Homo sapiens: one gene and its partners. The protein of the gene in region 5 interacts with the protein of the main gene of each other region in a pairwise test. Each region holds a gene or a part of one and is shown on either strand. Other genes may lie near its edges. The genes, in order: RBM12B, SECISBP2L, AKAP10, OAS2 and SASH1.

Region 1 (3,630 bases), on a different chromosome or scaffold from region 5:
AGGATTTCAGGCGGTCTCCCACGGAGGACTTCAGGCAGCTCCCCGAGGAGGACTTCAGGCAACCCCCTGAGGAGGACTTAAGGTGGCTCCCAGAGGAAGATTTCAGGCGGCCACCTGAGGAGGACTGGAGACGGCCCCCAGAGGAGGACTTTAGGCGGCCTCTTCAGGGAGAATGGAGGCGACCACCCGAGGATGACTTCAGGCGGCCCCCAGAGGAGGATTTCAGGCATTCCCCTGAGGAGGACTTCAGGCAGTCACCCCAGGAGCATTTCCGGAGGCCACCTCAGGAGCATTTCCGTCGGCCACCCCCAGAGCATTTCCGGAGACCACCTCCAGAGCATTTTAGGCGGCCTCCCCCAGAGCACTTCCGGCGGCCACCCCCAGAGCACTTCAGGCGGCCACCCCCAGAGCATTTCAGGCGCCCGCCCCCGGAGCACTTCCGGAGACCGCCCCAGGAGCATTTCAGGCGGCCGCCTCAGGAGCATTTCAGGCGCTCCCGAGAGGAAGATTTCAGGCACCCACCAGATGAAGACTTCAGGGGCCCTCCTGATGAAGACTTTAGGCACCCTCCTGATGAGGACTTCAGGAGCCCCCAGGAGGAAGATTTTAGATGCCCTTCTGATGAGGACTTCAGGCAGCTCCCAGAGGAAGACCTTAGGGAAGCTCCGGAGGAGGACCCTAGACTTCCTGACAATTTTAGACCTCCTGGTGAGGATTTTAGGAGCCCGCCTGATGATTTTAGAAGTCACCGCCCTTTTGTGAATTTTGGTCGCCCAGAAGGTGGCAAGTTTGATTTTGGAAAGCATAATATGGGAAGTTTTCCTGAGGGGAGATTTATGCCTGATCCAAAAATAAATTGTGGTTCAGGTAGAGTAACTCCTATTAAGATAATGAATCTTCCATTTAAAGCTAATGTGAATGAAATTTTAGACTTTTTCCATGGTTACAGAATCATACCTGATTCAGTTTCGATACAGTATAATGAGCAAGGCTTACCTACAGGGGAAGCCATTGTTGCTATGATAAACTATAATGAAGCTATGGCTGCTATTAAAGATCTAAATGATAGGCCAGTTGGGCCCCGAAAAGTTAAGTTAACTTTGCTGTAGAGAGAGAGCATTTCTAAATTCAGTTATCTTCCTTGCAGTATTGATGGAGTAAAATACATTTGTTTTAAAAAAGTGTTTTTTTTTTAAATTATCTAATGAAATATTTTATTTTTGACCTGTGAATAGAACAAATGTAAATAGTAGAATGTGAATCTGGTTTTCTTTTGCTTGCAAATTGCCATTCTTTTTTTTTTTCAAATTTAAAATTACACATGCTGTTTTTTTCTTTGATGGGGAGAAAGAACTCATTCCCTGAGTTCATTCATTTTTGTTGATGTCATCGGTAATCTTCAAGACTTATTGAAGTAGAGTTGTATTTGGGGAAGATACATTTTATATTCACTTTTTTTTTTCTTTCTGTAGTCTACCTCTTTTACTCAAACTGTATAAGGAAATAGTGACTGATTGTTCAGGTTTGGCATTTTCATTGCTACCTGCCTGCAGAATTAATGCCCTCTTCCTTGTCTAAGATATTACTGTGTTAAGTGTCCTGTTAATTATAAATAGTTCAAAATGGACAGACTGTCAACTTGAAATTTACTTATGTAAAAAGCTTAGGTGATTCTTAGGGTTTCCATGTTCATAACTTTACAAAGCTTTATAAAAATAAAATTGCAACTTAATAGAGCTAATTAACTTGTATTTGTATAAAAAGAAAAAAGAATTGCAGCTCGATATTGTGAAGTTTTTCAATAACTTCATTAAACCATATTTATGATGGGAGGGACCAGACATTCTATAGTAATAATGTATAGTGCTGTGTATAATTCCATGGTTTCTTCAACATCTTATCAACCAAGTAAAATTAATACAAGATACGCAAAAGATAGTAAAATAAGAATCTAATTATAGGTGCAAGGGGACTCAGGCTTATGCTGGAAGAATCTGACAAGTGGTATAGTTTGTTTTTCTAGGAAGAATTTACTGATGAGTCACATAACTTGCATGTAATATTAGGTTCTCATTTTTTAGCTTCGAAACTGTGTCCATGCAAAGACTCTATAACTGTTAAGACTTGTGTGGTTGAATTTTGACTTCTTTGATATTCAGCATTTAGTGCATACATTTTGCAACTAGGGAATTTGATTTTCTATACCCACAATAATATTTATGGCTAACATTTATTAGGCACTTACTATGTGCTAGGCACTGTAAGCACTTTACATGCATAATCTCGGTATTCCCTGTGAGTACAGGGTTAATTATTTACCTCTATTTCACAAATGAGATAATGAAGTGGGATGAAGTGCGAGGTTAAGCAACTTGCTTGAAGTCATAGGTAGTAAATCGTGGGGCCAATTTTAACCCAGACAGACCACTGACTCCAGTTCATGCTTTTGCTGCCTCACTTTTTTAAGTGGTATTTTTAATTAGGAAGACCATGCTAAAGATACTTTCAAGGATAAATGATTATTTTCTCACTTCAATTGTTGGTTTAAAATTAGCATAAATAGGTAAAACCAGCATGCTCAAACACTGAGCTCAAACATTAACATTACTAATAAAAAAAAAAAGAGTGACTTTAAAAGTTTCTTTCTATCCAGGGTTTCTCTTGGGATACTCATATGGTATATTACTGGCTTATATTTCAAAATTATTTTATTCAACATGATTGACTTTGGCCTTTTATAATTTACATAAAACATAATTTTCCTCAGTTCTGTAATCCAGATTTTCCCCATTGAGTAAATAATACAATTAAATTTACATATGGTAATTTAGACATTTAATAGGATATTGCATAGGTAGAATACTTTGTCAGTACTTAGTTACTACCTATATGTATTTTTGTGTTACTTTTCAGTGATTTAAAGAAATCTAACAGAAATCTGCTTAAATTTGTTTTAAATAGTGAATATCCTGCTTGCTATGGAATGAATAAACAGGTAAATTTGATATGAAAAAGCACCTCAGTATGATTCTTTAAAGTATAAGCTTGTAAGTAGCTAGGATAATGTTAAATTGATTGTTTGGAATATCCAAACCAAGCACAATGAAGAAAGTAGAAATGATATTTTTAATTGAGCAAAGATTGTATAGATGGTTCATTTGGTCACCCATTTTGAATAATATATGGAAAGTTAAAAAATGCTTCTCAGATACAAAGGAATAAAGCTAAGATGAAGCTTAACGTGAGGGATTACTTACTGTGGAATTGCATTTCAAACTGGGCTGAGGTGGGATGGTGGTGGTAGATAAGAGGCCAGCTAGAGTAAACATAAGCTTTGTAGTTTTATTATTTTAAGAGTCAGAGTCTTGTTCTGCTGGCCAGGCTGGAGTGCAGTGGTCTGATAATGGTTCACTGCAGCTTCTAACTCCTGGGCTCAAGCTGTCTTCCTGCCTCAGCCTCCTGAGAGCTGGGACTACAGGTGTGTGCCACCTTGTCTGGCTAAATTTTTTATTATTTGTAGAGACAGAGTCTCACTGTGTTGCCCAGGCTGTTCTCAAATTTCTGGCCTCAAGCAATCCTCACTCCTTGGTCTCCCAGAATGTGTTGGGATTACAGGTGTGAGCCACTGTG
Region 2 (4,189 bases), on a different chromosome or scaffold from region 5:
GAACCAGTAAGCCTTTATAAACAAAATGAACTCCATGATTTATCCTTCACATCTCAAAATGCAAGTTTTTTTTTTTTTTTCAGGGGAAAAAATGCATTATATACCAAGCAACACATATTCTTAGAATATTTAACTCTGGCAGTTAAAATTAAGCTAGCTATTTTGATTAAATACAGAGAATACTCTATAAAAAGTGCTGAAAGAGGATACTCCTAAGATTTTCTTCTAGTTATAACATTCTTTCAAATAATCATTATTGCAATTAAGATTATCCATCTAGCACTGTATTCCCAGTAAGTTACTTTTTACAATCTTGATCAGCACACATACAATTTACCTTTTCTATAAAAAGATTTTATATATTAAAAAAAGGTAATTCACAAGAACAAGAACATGAATGCCTTCAGGCAAAAAAAAAGCGTTTTTTTTTTAAAGTTACACTTGTAAAGTACACAAGGATTTAATTAGGTTAAGATAAAATGCAGAAAGTCTATATTAAGTACTACTTTTTAAAAACCAAACTTCTATGAATTGCTAACTACCACAATACTATAATGAGTAAGTTTTAATGCTGTAGGCATCTAGAGAAATTCTGAGTATGTCAACACTGGTCTAAAGGGAAAAAAACATTCTGTGAGGAAAAATGGAAATTGACACATATTACATATACTTTTCAATGACGTCAATCTACCTAAATTCACTTCAATAGTAGAAATACAAAAGTATAATCCAAATATCCTGGAAAAGCCATTACATGACTCTATGGCATAAAGAATCAAGAATTCCACAAAATTGAGAAATCTCAGTTCCCAATCTACTATTAAGTTAATGGTTCTTAGCCGTCCTTTGAGAATACGATGAAAATAATGGATTCTTGCCCTAGAAAAAGGCATATAAAGAAGCATACTCCTTCTAGGTCATTCATGGACCCCTGAATTAACTGCCTATCGCATAAATGAGGTGAAGACATCACTTTTCTATATATATTTTCTGAGTGTATAGGGAAGTGGAGGATTTTCAAATTATTCTTTCATTTAGGGTTAGGCTGGGGAAGAGGCAAGAAGTACTGGAAGAAAAAAAAGTCAACAGAAAACCTTCTTCCATGTTTTTTTCCTAGTTCTTAAATTTCTACAAGGTTTTAATAGGTCGTGGACTTTGGAAAGATGTGGAAAGGGGAAAAGGCTCTCTAGTTTAAATAATTTGCTCACAGCACTTGCTGCTAGGATAATCACAAACAGCTATGCTAAAAATTACCATCTAAATAGTTAATTATATTTCCTCTAGGATGAAAGGAACTCTAAGTATACATAAGGTAGCATTACTGGTTTTAGTCCTGGCATCCTAGTGAAGGAACAAAATGTTGAACCCTTTCATTAGTAACACACATACAAGGAAATGATTCAAGGAAAATTCGTATTCATTTGTCAGGCTTTGAAATCTCAGGTATTTATGATAGATACCTTCAAAAATGTTTTTAAATTAAACTAGATACAGGCTGTATACAGAATACTTCTGGGTCACATAAATGCCTAAGTGTATTTGCCAAGAGACTCTGTATCAATTTCTCTTTGGTAATTCCATGTATTGTTTTATAAAACTCATTTGTGTCTTCAGAGTTACATTCACATAAAGCTTTTTTTTAAAAAAAAAAGTCTTCTGTAAAAACAAGTATACACAACTAGGAAGCTGTGCTTTGCCTGCTAAGAGTCCGATTTCAAAATACAAACCGGCTTCAACTACATATAGACACATACAGGAATTTGGGAAATCTTATCTCATTAATTCAGGTGCTAATTATCCAACTGTAAAATTAATAGGCAGAAATTACTAGCCTCTCTTCTTCCGTCATCTAGTCATCAATGGGCAAGGCCTTCGAAGAAGGGAATAGAGAGTGAATAAACTTGGACTTCAAATTAAGTCGTTTCGCAGAGATCTTAAGAGTGGAAAATACTGGGGGGGAAACTATTGTTTTCGATTACTTTTAACACTGTTATCATCCCTGCCTGCTACCACCTACTAGCATGCATAATCAGGAATTTGATGCAAATAAAAATAAAACAGAACACTAATAGGACTACTTTGCGAATATGAAAACGGGTTCGAAAATAAGCTTATGCTTTACACCCTTAAAATAGAGCTAGCTTTAAAAAAAAACCCACTAATTACAATTCTTTGCAAAATAACTGGATAAAAGGACAAGGGGAAATCGTAGTATCGTTTCTTAAAAGAAACACCTCCGTAAAACCACTGCAAAAACAATGCTTCGCTCCATTGAACACAGACCTAAAAGGCCCGTGACTTCCCTTCATCTGTAGTTACCACACATTCTCTTACAGTCTTTCTGGGTGAGAAGCCTTCAAACGCCTTTCCACCTTGAAAACACATTCCAGAGCTGAAGGGAATGGGGGAAGCGGGGAGACTACTAGAAGTTATAAGCCCTCCTCCCAGGAGAGCAGGGACAACTTGGAGCCTTCTGACCCCTTCACCAAGCAGGGGAGAAGCGGCAACGGCGAGCCCTCCGCCTGGGAAGTAATCAGGGTTGGAAAAGCCCCCAAGTCCCAGGCAGCAGCTGGAACAATGAAGGAGAGCTGGGAGCTGCCAGGCTCCCAGGTGAGGGGGTCTGCGGCCGCAGGACCGGCCCCCGGTCCCCACGTTCGGAGAACTGGGCCTGGCCTGTGAGGAAGCGGCGACCCCAACCCCCGGCTCGGCGGGCCCAGCCCAAACCCGCGTACCTGCTCCGTGGGGGCTCGGTCCATGGTGCCTGCAGCCGCAACGGGCCCGCGCTAGTCGGTGTAAACAGCGCCTCGGGCCGCTTTCTCCATGGCCCCCCGCTCGGGTCCAGACTGGGTTCCGGACCTCCGCCCCTATCTGGCTGGCCGCGACACCGATTCGGCTACGCCACTGGCCGAGGAGGCGGCTCCAGCTCCGGGAGATGGAGGAGGCGGTGGCAGCTTCGGGGAGGGATCATCTGGGACGGAAGCCGAGGAGGGCCCGAATGGGCTGGAGGCGTAGTTAGAAATGGAGGCGCACGGAAGGAAAAGGAGTGGGGAGGAGGCAGAGAGGGGCAGTGGGCGGAGTGACAGCAAATGGCCTCAGCAAGGGTAGGAGGAACCCGGCCTGGCCTGGAGGCTAAGGCCAGGTGGAGGCGCCCAGGAGCAGGTGCCCCGAACCACACGCCACCCCTGCGACTGTTAAACGAGAAGTGTCAGACCACTTGGGACCCAGGTCTCCCGGGACTTCAAAGACCTCTTCAGGATCTGAAACCACCTCTTAGTGATGTTGGAAAAGCTTTCATCTGCCCACCGTACATCTGCTCCTTCCTTATGTTACGCAAATAAAGGGAGTCATGACTATAAAGGAATGAGAATATTCTGAAAATAATGGAGTCTTGCCCTAGAAAAATGCATATGTAAAACGCATACACAGAATGACTGGAAGAGGCCCGCTAGGAAGCTCCCCACAAATATTTATTGAGAGTTAATTCATTATCCAGGTTCATGCCCACTTCTAGGCTCACATCCAGGCTGACCTCGCCCATCTCAGAAATCCTAATTTTATGCAGGATCTGTATAACACCACCCAACGGGTAATTATTTTATCTTCAGATCCTTAGCTCCTTAAGGGCAGAGACTGTCTTGAAACTGGGCACTACCGTTAGCATGGCAAATTTCTTCTGGGCATCTCCTCAGACACACCCTCCAACACCCACACCCTCTGTGAAGATTCAACCAACTGCGGATAGAAATATTTTGAGGAAAAAAGAAATATCAAGTACAACAATAAAATACAAGTAATACAGTTTAACAACTGCTTATACAGCATTTACATTGTATTAGGTATTATAAGTAATCTAGAGATGATTTAAAGTATATCGGAGGATATGCATGGATTGTATGCAAATACTACACCATTTTATATAAGGATCTTTAGCACTCATGGATTTTGGTATCAGCAGGGATCCTGGAGCCAATATCCCCCCTGGGATACTTAGGGACAACTGTATAAGCTAAATTACACTTAAGTGAAGGTAGAGTTGAGGTGGCTGCTGTTTGGGGCACTGGTGTGGAGATCCACAGCTAGGAATGGGAAAGAGATTTTAAGAAATTTGCTTTGTCATGCTTCAGGAGATATCAGTAAAGACTAATTGCCTTTTCAGTTAGTCTAGGTTATTAGTCTGGTTATTAGACTC
Region 3 (3,630 bases), on a different chromosome or scaffold from region 5:
ATCTTTAAAAATCACGCAAATGGCTGAGCACGGTGGCTCACGCCTGTAATCCTAGCACTTTGGGAGGCCAAGTTGGGTGGAACACTTGAGGTCAGGAGTTCAAGACCAGCCTGGCCAACATGGTGAAACCCTGTGGCCACTAAAAATAGGAAAATGAGCTGGGCATGGTGGTGCATGCCTGTAATCCCAACTACTCGGGAGGCTGAGGCAGGAGAATCACTTTAACCCAGGAGGTGGAGGTTGCAGTGAGCTGAGATCACGCCACTGCACTCCAGCCTGGGCAACAGAGTGAGACTCCATCTCAAAAAAAAAAAAAAAATTAATTACACAAATGACACTCTATACATATCTGACCTGTATTCATTCAATAATCTGACATGACTATTGAACCAGTTCTAGTTCATTCACGCAGCTCTAGTTTATTCATTTTAGCTACTTAATTGTTTTATAAATATACCTTTACTCATTTTCCTGTTAATGAACATTTACTTTATTTCCTAATTTTCACTTAAACATTCAACTAGTGAACATTCTAGTACACGTCTTCCTATGCATATAAGCAAGAATTTCTCTAGGATAAGCCTCTAGACATGGAATTGCTAGGTAACAAATTATGTGCATTTTTTTCAGCCAGGAGCATTGGCTCACGCCTCTAATCCCAGCACTTTGGGAAGCAGCTCACCTGAGGTCAGGAGTTCGAGACCAGCCTGGCCAACATGGCAAAACCCTGTCTCTACTAAAAATACAAAACTTAACCGGGCGTTGTGGCATGTGCCTGTAATCCCAGCTACTCAGGAGGCTGAGGCAGGAGAATTGCTTGAACCCAGGAGGCAGAGATTGTGGTGAGCCGAGATCATGCCACTGCATTCTAGCCTGGGCGACATAGACTGTCTCAAAAAAATAAATAAAAAACAAATTATGTGCATTTTTAATGAAAGTGACTGTACCATTCCATGCACTCATATAGCCATGCTTCATATTCTCATCCTTGGTATTTTTAATTTTGCCAACTTACTAGTTTTGAAATGGCATTTGATGTTTTTAATTCATTTCCTTGTTTCCTTTGAGGTTAAACATCCTTTCATGTTTATTGGTCATTTTGGCTTCCTCTTTTGTGAACTGCCTCTTCATGTCCCTTGTCTTTTACTTATTACTTGCAGAAATTCCATACACGTCCTGGATGTAAATCTTCTCTTCTAGAAGTATCTTAGGTATACTTTATTGTATGAAAGTTTTAGGTTTTTTGCTTTGTTTTGTTTTGTTTTTTTGAGACGGAATCTCACTCTGTCGCCCAGGCTGGAGTGCAGTGGCGCGATCTCAGCTCACTGCAAGCTTCGCCTCCCGGGTTCAGGCCATTCTCCTGCCTCAGCCTCCCAAGTAGCTGGGACTACAGGCGCCCGCCACCACGCCCGGCTAATGTTTTGTATTTTTAGTAGAGACGGGGTTTCACCGTGTTAGCCAGGATGGTCTCAATCTCCTGACCTGGTGATCTGCTCACCTCGGCCTCCCAAAGTACTGGTATTACAGGCGTGAGCCACCGCGCTTGGCGAAAGTTTTAAGTTTTAACGTAGTCAAATTTACACAACATGGATTATATTTTCCTGTGTCTTATTTTAAGCAATATCCCTTCCTATCCTGAGATCAGGATTGTTCCCCCTACCTGTTCTTCTACATGACTTCAAGTTTTGTTTTTTTAACATTCCAGGCTCTTATTTACCTGGAATTTGTTTCTGCATCAGGGATTGGCAAACTACAGCCCATGGGCCAAATACAACCCACTACCTTTTGTTTTGTTTTGCTTTAAGACTCCGTCACCCTGGCTGGAGTGCAGTGGTGCTATCTCAGCTCACTGCAACCTCTGCCTCCTGGGTTCAAGTGATTCTTGTGTCTTAGCCTCCAGAGTAGCTGGAATTATAGACACCCACCACCATGCCCAGCTATTTTTTGTATTTTTAGTAGAGACAGGGTTTCACCATGTTGGCCAGGCTGGTCTCAAACTCCTGACCCCAAGTGATCCATCTGCCTTAGCCTCCCAAAGTGCTGGCCATGCCTAAACTGGCCCACTACCAGTTTTTGTAAGTAAAGTTTTATCGTAGCACAGCCATGCCCATTTGTTTACATATTGTCTATGGCTTCAAGGATAAAGGAGAGTGTGACAGAAACCATATGGTCTGGAAAGCCTAAAATATTTATGATTTGGCCCTTAACAGAAAAAGTCTGTTGATCTGAGATATATGAGAGGAGGCAGGAAATTATTTTTTGCCAGATGATGGATAACTAGCATCATTTACAGATCAGTCTATCTTTTCCCAACTAGGAACTCTATATCCGAAATTCCCAATATACCTGGGTCTGTTTCTGTGCATTTGTTTTGAATATATACCATAAGTATCAAGAATGGAATGGAAACCAAATGGAAGCCTATGGCAAAATAATGCTGCCTCCTCAATCTTTATAAAACCAGCTCCCTCTTGACATTTAAGCTAAGATTTGAATGTCATCTCCTTAGAGGACATCCTTAACCACTCAATCTTAACAGAGATGACTGCCTAGACCAGGGTGTTAATTGTCACAGATGGTGAGACGTGGTAGGATTTCGATATGTGTGAGGTAGACCTAACAGATTTGCTGATGGATCAGATATAGAGTAGGAGGAAAGAAGAGGTTCAAAGATGTACTAAAGTTTTGGGCTGAGCAACTAAAAATCCAAAAATGCAGCCGGGAGCGGTGGCTCATGCCTGTAATCCCAGCCTTTGGGAGGCCGAGGCAGGCAGATCACCTGAGGTCAGGAGTACAAAACCAGCCTGACCAACATGGTGAAACCCTGTCTCCAAAAATTAGCTGGTCATGGTGGCGCATGCCTGTAATTCCAGCTACTTGCGAGGCTGAGGCAGGAGAATCACTTGAACCCAGGAGGCGGAGGTTGCAGTGAGCCAAGATCCGCCACTGCACTCCAGCTTGAACGATAAGAGCGAAACTCCATCTCAAAAAAAAGAAAAGAAAAAAAGCCAAAATACTACTTCTTGAGAAAAACTGATGAGCAGGTTTAAAATGACTAAATCTGGCATAAAATTTTAGATATTGTAAGTTGAAGGTATCTACTGGATTAAGCTTGTCCATCCCGCGGCCCAGGATGGCTCTGAATGTGCCCAACACAAATTCGTAAACTTTCTTAAAACATTATAAGTTTTGCGATTTTTTTTTAGCTCATCTGCTATTGTTAGCGTTAGTGTACTCTATGTGTGGCTCAAGACAATTCTTCTTCCAATGTGGCCTAGGGAAGCCAAAAGACTGGACACCTCTATATTGGTCAGGTAGAGATACAAACTGAACCTAAAGTTGGATATACCAGTCTGGATTCAGGGGCAAGGATCCAACGTAGTGATGTAAATTTGGGACTCAATGCATTGATGGTATTTAAAGTCTGAATCGAATCCCTAACAGGACCATCTCCAGCTTCTACTCTTACCACATCCAGCCTCCAAAAAGCACCTAGAATGATTTTTTTTTTTTTTTGAGACAAGATCTCACTGTGTTGCAGTGGTGGGATCATAGCTTACTGCAGCCTCAAACTCCTGGGCTCAAGTGATCTTTCTGCTTCAGCCTCCTGAATAACTCACAACACCCAGC
Region 4 (2,835 bases), on a different chromosome or scaffold from region 5:
GCACTGTAGGGTGCTGCGCAGCATCCCTAGTCTCTACCCAGTAGATGCCACTAGCCCTCCTCTCCCAGTGACAACCAAAAGTCTTCAGACATTGTCAAACGTTCCCCTGGGTTCACAGATCTTTCTGCCTTTGGCTTTTGGCTCCACCCTCTTTAGCTGTTAATTTGAGTACTTATGGCCCTGAAAGCGGCCACGGTGCCTCCAGATGGCAGGTTTGCAATCCAAGCAGGAAGAAGGAAAAGATACCCAAAGGTCAAGAACACAGTGATTTTATTAGAAGTTTCATCCGCAAATTTTCTTCCATTTCATTGCTCAGAAATGTCATGTGGCTACCTGTAACTTGAAGGTGGCTACAAAGATGACTGTGGACGTGGGTTGCACTGGCCACCCAAGGATGTCTGCCACACCTCTCCAAAGCCCTCCCTACCTACCAAGATATACCTGATATATTCCACCAGGATATCCTCCCTCCAGATATACTTGGTTCTCTCCACCAGGTTCTTTCTTTAAAGCAGGATTTCTCAACTTTGATACTTACTCACATTTGGGGCTAGACAGTTCTTTGTTTGGAGGCTCTCTTGTGCATTGTAGGATGTTGAGCAGCATCTCTGGCCTGTACCCAGTAGATGCCACCCAGTTGTGACAATTAAAAGTGTCTTGAGACTTTATCATGTGTCTTCTGCCCTAGGTGAGAACCCTTGCACTAGAGGAACCCTACACCCCAACCCTGGGGGGAATGTAGGGAAGAGGTGGCCAAGCCAACCGTGGGGTTAGCTCTAATTATTAAGATATGCATTATAAATAAATACCAAAAAATTGTCTCTGGCAATAGTTACCTTCCCAGATACAGGTCCCCCCTTTTTTCCCCTAACTCTTTTAAGCAATGATTGTAACTATTAGGAGACATTGCTCTCCCACGTATGTTTTTCTTTTTAGACAATGCAGACACCAGGAAGTTGTGGAGCTAGGATCCATCCTATTGTCAATGAGATGTTCTCATCCAGAAGCCATAGAATCCTGAATAATAATTCTAAAAGAAACTTCTAGAGATCATCTGGCAATCGCTTTTAAAGACTCGGCTCACCGTGAGAAAGAGTCACTCACATCCATTCTTCCCTTGATGGTCCCTATTCCTCCTTCCCTTGCTTCTTGGACTTCTTGAAATCAATCAAGACTGCAAACCCTTTCATAAAGTCTTGCCTTGCTGAACTCCCTCTCTGCAGGCAGCCTGCCTTTAAAAATAGTTGCTGTCATCCACTTTATGTGCATCTTATTTCTGTCAACTTGTATTTTTTTTCTTGTATTTTTCCAATTAGCTCCTCCTTTTTCCTTCCAGTCTAAAAAAGGAATCCTCTGTGTCTTCAAAGCAAAGCTCTTTACTTTCCCCTTGGTTCTCATAACTCTGTGATCTTGCTCTCGGTGCTTCCAACTCATCCACGTCCTGTCTGTTTCCTCTGTATACAAAACCCTTTCTGCCCCTGCTGACACAGACATCCTCTATGCCAGCAGCCAGCCAACCCTTTCATTAGAACTTCAAGCTCTCCAAAGGCTCAGATTATAACTGTTGTCATATTTATATGAGGCTGTTGTCTTTTCCTTCTGAGCCTGCCTTTCTCCCCCCCACCCAGGAGTATCCTCTTGCCAAATCAAAAGACTTTTTCCTTGGGCTTTAGCCTTAAAGATACTTGAAGGTCTAGGTGCTTTAACCTCACATACCCTCACTTAAACTTTTATCACTGTTGCATATACCAGTTGTGATACAATAAAGAATGTATCTGGATTTTGTGCCTAGTTCCTAGCACACAGCTTCAAAAATTCTAGAGTTTCCTGATAGGAGTGTCTTTTGTATTCATAACAAGCCCTTTTCACCCATGCCTGGGTTTATGCTAACAAGGTTACCCATGGTGGGCCCTTAGTTTCAAGGAAGGAGTTGGCCAAGCCAGAAAGACCAAGCATGTGGTTAAAGCATTGGAATTTTCAGCCCCATCCCACCCCCAATCTCCAAGGAGGTGATGGGGCTGGAAATTGAGTTCAATTTTAACATGGCCAGTGATTTAAGCAATGCTGCCTATGTAAAGAAACCCCAATAAAAACTCTGGACAGTGAGGCTTGGGGAGCTTCCTGATTGGCAGACATTCCAATGTACTAGGAAGGTAGCGCATCTTGATTCCACAGGGACAAAGGCTCCTGAGCTCTGGGCCCTTCCAGTGCTTGCCACCCTACATACTCTTTGTCTGGCTCTTCATTTGTATTCTTTATAATAAAATGGTGATTGTAAGTAGAGCATTTTCCTGAGTTCTATGAGTCATTCTGCAAATTATCAAAACTGAAGGAAAGTCATGGAAACTCCCAAGTTTGTAACCAAGTCGGACAGAGGTGTGGGTAGCCTGGGGACCCCATGTATGGCTGGAGTCTGAAAGAAGGGTGGACTTGGTGAGGACCTTGCTCTTTAAATTGTGGGATCTACACACATTCCAGGTAGTCAGTGCCAGACTTGACTTAAATTGCAGGACAGTCAGCTGGTGTCACAGATTAGGTGTTGGAATGCACCACTACTCTTGTCCAGGATGCAGGCAAAAGAAATATATATGAAGATGTTGAAAAATGGAAGAATACAGGAAACAAGCATGAGAAGAAAAGGCAAAAATAATTTTTAAAAAGTTTTTTAAATGATAAAAAACATTTAATGAAAGAATGACCACTTTAAGTACACATCTACTCAGTCTACAACTAGTTACCAGGGCCTTCTGGATGCCCAAACTTGCACTAGATACATAGGCAGGAAACACGGAAGCAGAAACTGTGAGACGCTGTCCCCATCCTCACAGGGCTTGG
Region 5 (3,630 bases):
CCACTTGGGAGGCTGAGGCAGGAGAATTGCTTGAACCTGGAAGGTTGAGGGTTGCAGTGAGCCGAGATCGCGCCACTGTAACTCCAGCCTGGGCAACAGAGTTTGACTCACTCAAAAAAAAAAAAAAAAAAAAAAAAAAAAAGAAAGAAAGAAGAAAGAATGAAATAAAAAAGTTACTTTTCCAAAACACAGACGCAAGTAGTCCCATGCCCAATGGCCTCTTTCACCGGTGCCCACAAACCTTATCCAGCAACATCAGCACCCAGATCTGGGAGATCTGTGCCCTTCCACCTTTGTCCCTCTTTGCTCTGTGGGGAAGGGCCCACCTCGCACCTTCCTTTTTATCCCTCTCACTAGAAAAGACCTCTCTGGGAACTCCTACTTATCCCTCAGGGCCCAAATCCAAAGGTATGTCTGGTAGGGGCCGCCCAGACGCTCCTGGGTTGCTGATCCTGAGTGAAGGGATCCTACCGCCTTCGGGGCGCTCTGCCCACTGCCCTGTGAGGTTGGGTATATACTCAGCGACCGTGGGGCTGAGGCTTTTGCAGCAAAACTAACCTTTTGTAGAATTCAAGGGCAAGTATCGCTAATAGCTCAATAGCTTAAACAAACAAAAATTAGCAGCCAATAAACGTCTGAAGAAGATGTGTGAAAGAATGAACTATACACAGTTGCAAATGGAAGTCAGTTTCAGGGAAATACATGATCCAACTCTCAGCTTCCCCATCTACTATCTGCATGACTTAGGACACAGACGTTTACATCTGAACTGTAAAATGAGGGCAAGAATACTCACTGACCACACCTCCTACAAGGATCAAGTAAGGAAATGTATGCGCAAGATCCAGCACAGCCCCAGGACTCTACACAGGAGCACTGCCTCTCACTCCGTCCCCATAGAGCTGCATGCAAAGGACCTCAGTAAGAAGCCAGGTGGCAGAGGGAAGGGTTGTATGGCTGAGCAAAAGAAAGACAAGGTAGAGAACAGCAAATAAAGGCAGAAAGGCAGGAGAAGGGAATCATGGAAGAAGGTCACTTAAGCTTAAGGGGTCTCCTTTAGCAGGAAAAGATTCGGCAACCCCAACCAAAATTATCAAAGCCGGCCAGGCGCAGTGGCTCACGCCTGTAATCCCAGCACTTTGGGAGACCGAGGTGGGTGGATCACTTGTGGCCAGGGATTTGAGACCAGCCTAAACCCTGTCTCTACTAAAAATACAAAAATTAGCCAGGTGTGGTGGCAGACGCCTGTAATCCCAGCTACTTGGGAGGCTGAGGCAGGAGAATCGCTTGAACTCGGGAGGCAGAGGTTGCAGTGACCGGAGATTGCACCACTGCACTCCAGCCTGGGAGACAGAGTGAGACTCCTTCTCAAAAATAAATAAATAAACAAATAAATAAATAAAATTATGAAAGCCATTGACTTAGTCTTTGCCAAAGAAGTGAACATCCAGACGCCTGAGTTCTGCCTCCTCTCTGTTACCCTGAGTAAGTCTTTTACACCTGGAAGCCCTCCAAACCCTTCTCTCTAAATGAGAGTTGAGGGTGCATTTCCAAGGGCGCTTCAATCCCTTCCAGTACATAACCCTGCAACTTCTCCACATAGAGAGGCCACAAGGCTTTCTTCAGTGGGCTAAAAGGAACATCATAAAATTAAGGTGAAGTCAGAATATTTGAAATGTGCTTGACTCTCAAATTCCAAGACGTAAAATTAATTAAGTCATTAGCTGATAGGCACAACTCTAGACACCTCCCAAGAGAACATGTAAATTAACTGCTTTCAAAGGAGTTAGCATTTTAAAAGCCCCCTCAGGATCTCACTAACATCTCCCCGCCCCACACTGGGCCTAAAACAACAAAGGAAAAGAGGGAGACATTTTGTTTGTTTGTTTTAGGGGTTTTCTTGTTAATTTTTTAGGAATGGAGTAAATAGTAAGATAGGATGAATATAGCAGTTCTGTGGACTGATGCCTGCCTTTCTGTAGCTTGCACAGGAATTAGAGTAGGGGAAGGTTCGGAGTATCTCTATACAATGGATATTTTTTAAACATGCTGGGAAATGGGTGTAAATTGTAGAAACAGAGCAAAAACAGAGGAAATTTCAGGTTTGGGGGAGGTGCATCTTGCAGGATCCTGCAAACAATAGGCACTTACTAACCCCCTTCCCAGTTAACAAGTAGATTTAAAGGCTTCTAAGGCTTTGCCTTAGAAGTCCTCAAATCCTGTAGGCAGAAGCTGAAGAACCATCACAATTTACCAAATGGATAAATCAGTTCTGAAAAAAGGATCTACCACACCTAACTGTATCAACAACCTTAGCAATTCCCGCTCTTAAAAACAACTTCCCTCCCCTACCTAAAAAAAGGAATGCCGTGTCTGCCAACTATGGAGTAAAGAAAAAAGGGTAAAATTCCACAGGATTCTAACTCAGTTTTGCACTTCTCAATAGAAGTCTACACATGTCACAGGGAGAAGTGACATGCTTTGAAAACCCTGGCCTACCACATGTCGTGGTGTTAGTGAACAGAATGGCACATTTCACAAGAACGCCAAGGTTTAATAGCTCAGGGCTTATAAACATGTTGCAGTTTACCATTAGTTTCCAGTGGAAGCACTGGGATTTTAATTTGCACGATGAAACTGCCCAAAATGCAGTTTCAGCCAGAGCAGAATGTATTCACATCTTTATAAATGTAACCCATTACATTACAGCAGGCACATGTGTCTTGACAGAACAATGCTTTGATGTGACTCCTGCATTTAAGAAATACATACTTTTCCCCTTTTTCTTTCAACAAAGCCATGTTCTCAGCACCCAGTTAAGTCAGGAGCACTGGAGATAGAAAAATGAGTAAGACACTGACCCTGCCCTCCAGGCACTCACAATCTAGTTAATTTTTTTTTTTTTTTGCAAGCTTGTTTTCTCTTAATTCTATATCCATTTATATATTCACTTATTAGCATTTATTTATTCTAGTACTGCTCAAACATTTTCATGCCGTAAATTATACTATTATTTCTTTTCTAAATGAGCACTTTGTTAACAATTATCTGAAAGCAACTATTTGGTGCTTAACTGTGCATGGACTGAATTAATCTAAATGCAAAATGTGTCCTAATGAACTCAAACAACCATCCTGTATTTACTGAGATCCATGACTCTGGGGCAATACTTTCACTGGGTTATAACCAACAAAATCCCCTGGGGGACAACTGCTCAATATTGCTCATTCACCTAAAAATGTTTTCACTTACTAAGCTGTGAGTTTTGTCATTTCAAAGTTCCACATACAGTATTGATAAGCTGTGTGGTTTGATTTCCACAATTAGAATAATCTGAAAAAGTAAGGTAGAACTGTGTCTGAAATCTGTTAAGGATAATGTTCAGATGTGTAATTTCCCAACTACCTCTACTGTCCTCTTCAAGTTCAGTACGGAAAAAGAATCTTGTAAGTCACATTTTACCTAAAACACACAGGATTTCTAAATGTACTGAACTACATTTCTACTGAATTCATCTGAGAGTTAACTATGGAGCGTCATGACATCAGGATCCCTACTGGAGGGGCCAGCGACCAGGGACAAGTCTAACATTGTCACTAACATGGTATGTGCCATTGGCCAAGTCACTTC

What was found.
Region 1: the proteins of SASH1 (region 5) and RBM12B interact in a two-hybrid assay, tested with the Homo sapiens proteins (one large-scale study listed by BioGRID).
Region 2: the proteins of SASH1 (region 5) and SECISBP2L interact in a two-hybrid assay, tested with the Homo sapiens proteins (one large-scale study listed by BioGRID).
Region 3: the proteins of SASH1 (region 5) and AKAP10 interact in a two-hybrid assay, tested with the Homo sapiens proteins (one large-scale study listed by BioGRID).
Region 4: the proteins of SASH1 (region 5) and OAS2 interact in a two-hybrid assay, tested with the Homo sapiens proteins (one large-scale study listed by BioGRID).

What each region holds. Positions count from the first base shown.
Region 1 is NC_000008.11:93,730,884-93,734,513, reverse strand, and holds part of RBM12B (RNA-binding protein 12B), read left to right. Parts: coding exon 1-1,109; 3' UTR 1,110-3,630.
Region 2 is NC_000015.10:49,043,544-49,047,732, forward strand, and holds the start of SECISBP2L (selenocysteine insertion sequence-binding protein 2-like), read right to left. Parts: upstream 2,904-4,189; 5' UTR 2,757-2,903; coding exon 2,733-2,756; intron 1-2,732. UniProt on the Homo sapiens protein: Binds SECIS (Sec insertion sequence) elements present on selenocysteine (Sec) protein mRNAs, but does not promote Sec incorporation into selenoproteins in vitro.
Region 3 is NC_000017.11:19,971,206-19,974,835, forward strand, and holds part of AKAP10 (A-kinase anchor protein 10, mitochondrial isoform 1 precursor), read right to left. Parts: intron 1-3,630. UniProt on the Homo sapiens protein: Differentially targeted protein that binds to type I and II regulatory subunits of protein kinase A and anchors them to the mitochondria or the plasma membrane.
Region 4 is NC_000012.12:113,009,438-113,012,272, forward strand, and holds the end of OAS2 (2'-5'-oligoadenylate synthase 2), read left to right. Parts: 3' UTR 1-936; coding exon of another isoform or gene 937-1,047; 3' UTR 1,048-2,286; downstream 2,287-2,835.
Region 5 is NC_000006.12:148,345,765-148,349,394, reverse strand, and holds part of SASH1 (SAM and SH3 domain-containing protein 1), read right to left. Parts: intron 1-3,630. UniProt on the Homo sapiens protein: Is a positive regulator of NF-kappa-B signaling downstream of TLR4 activation. It acts as a scaffold molecule to assemble a molecular complex that includes TRAF6, MAP3K7, CHUK and IKBKB, thereby facilitating NF-kappa-B signaling activation.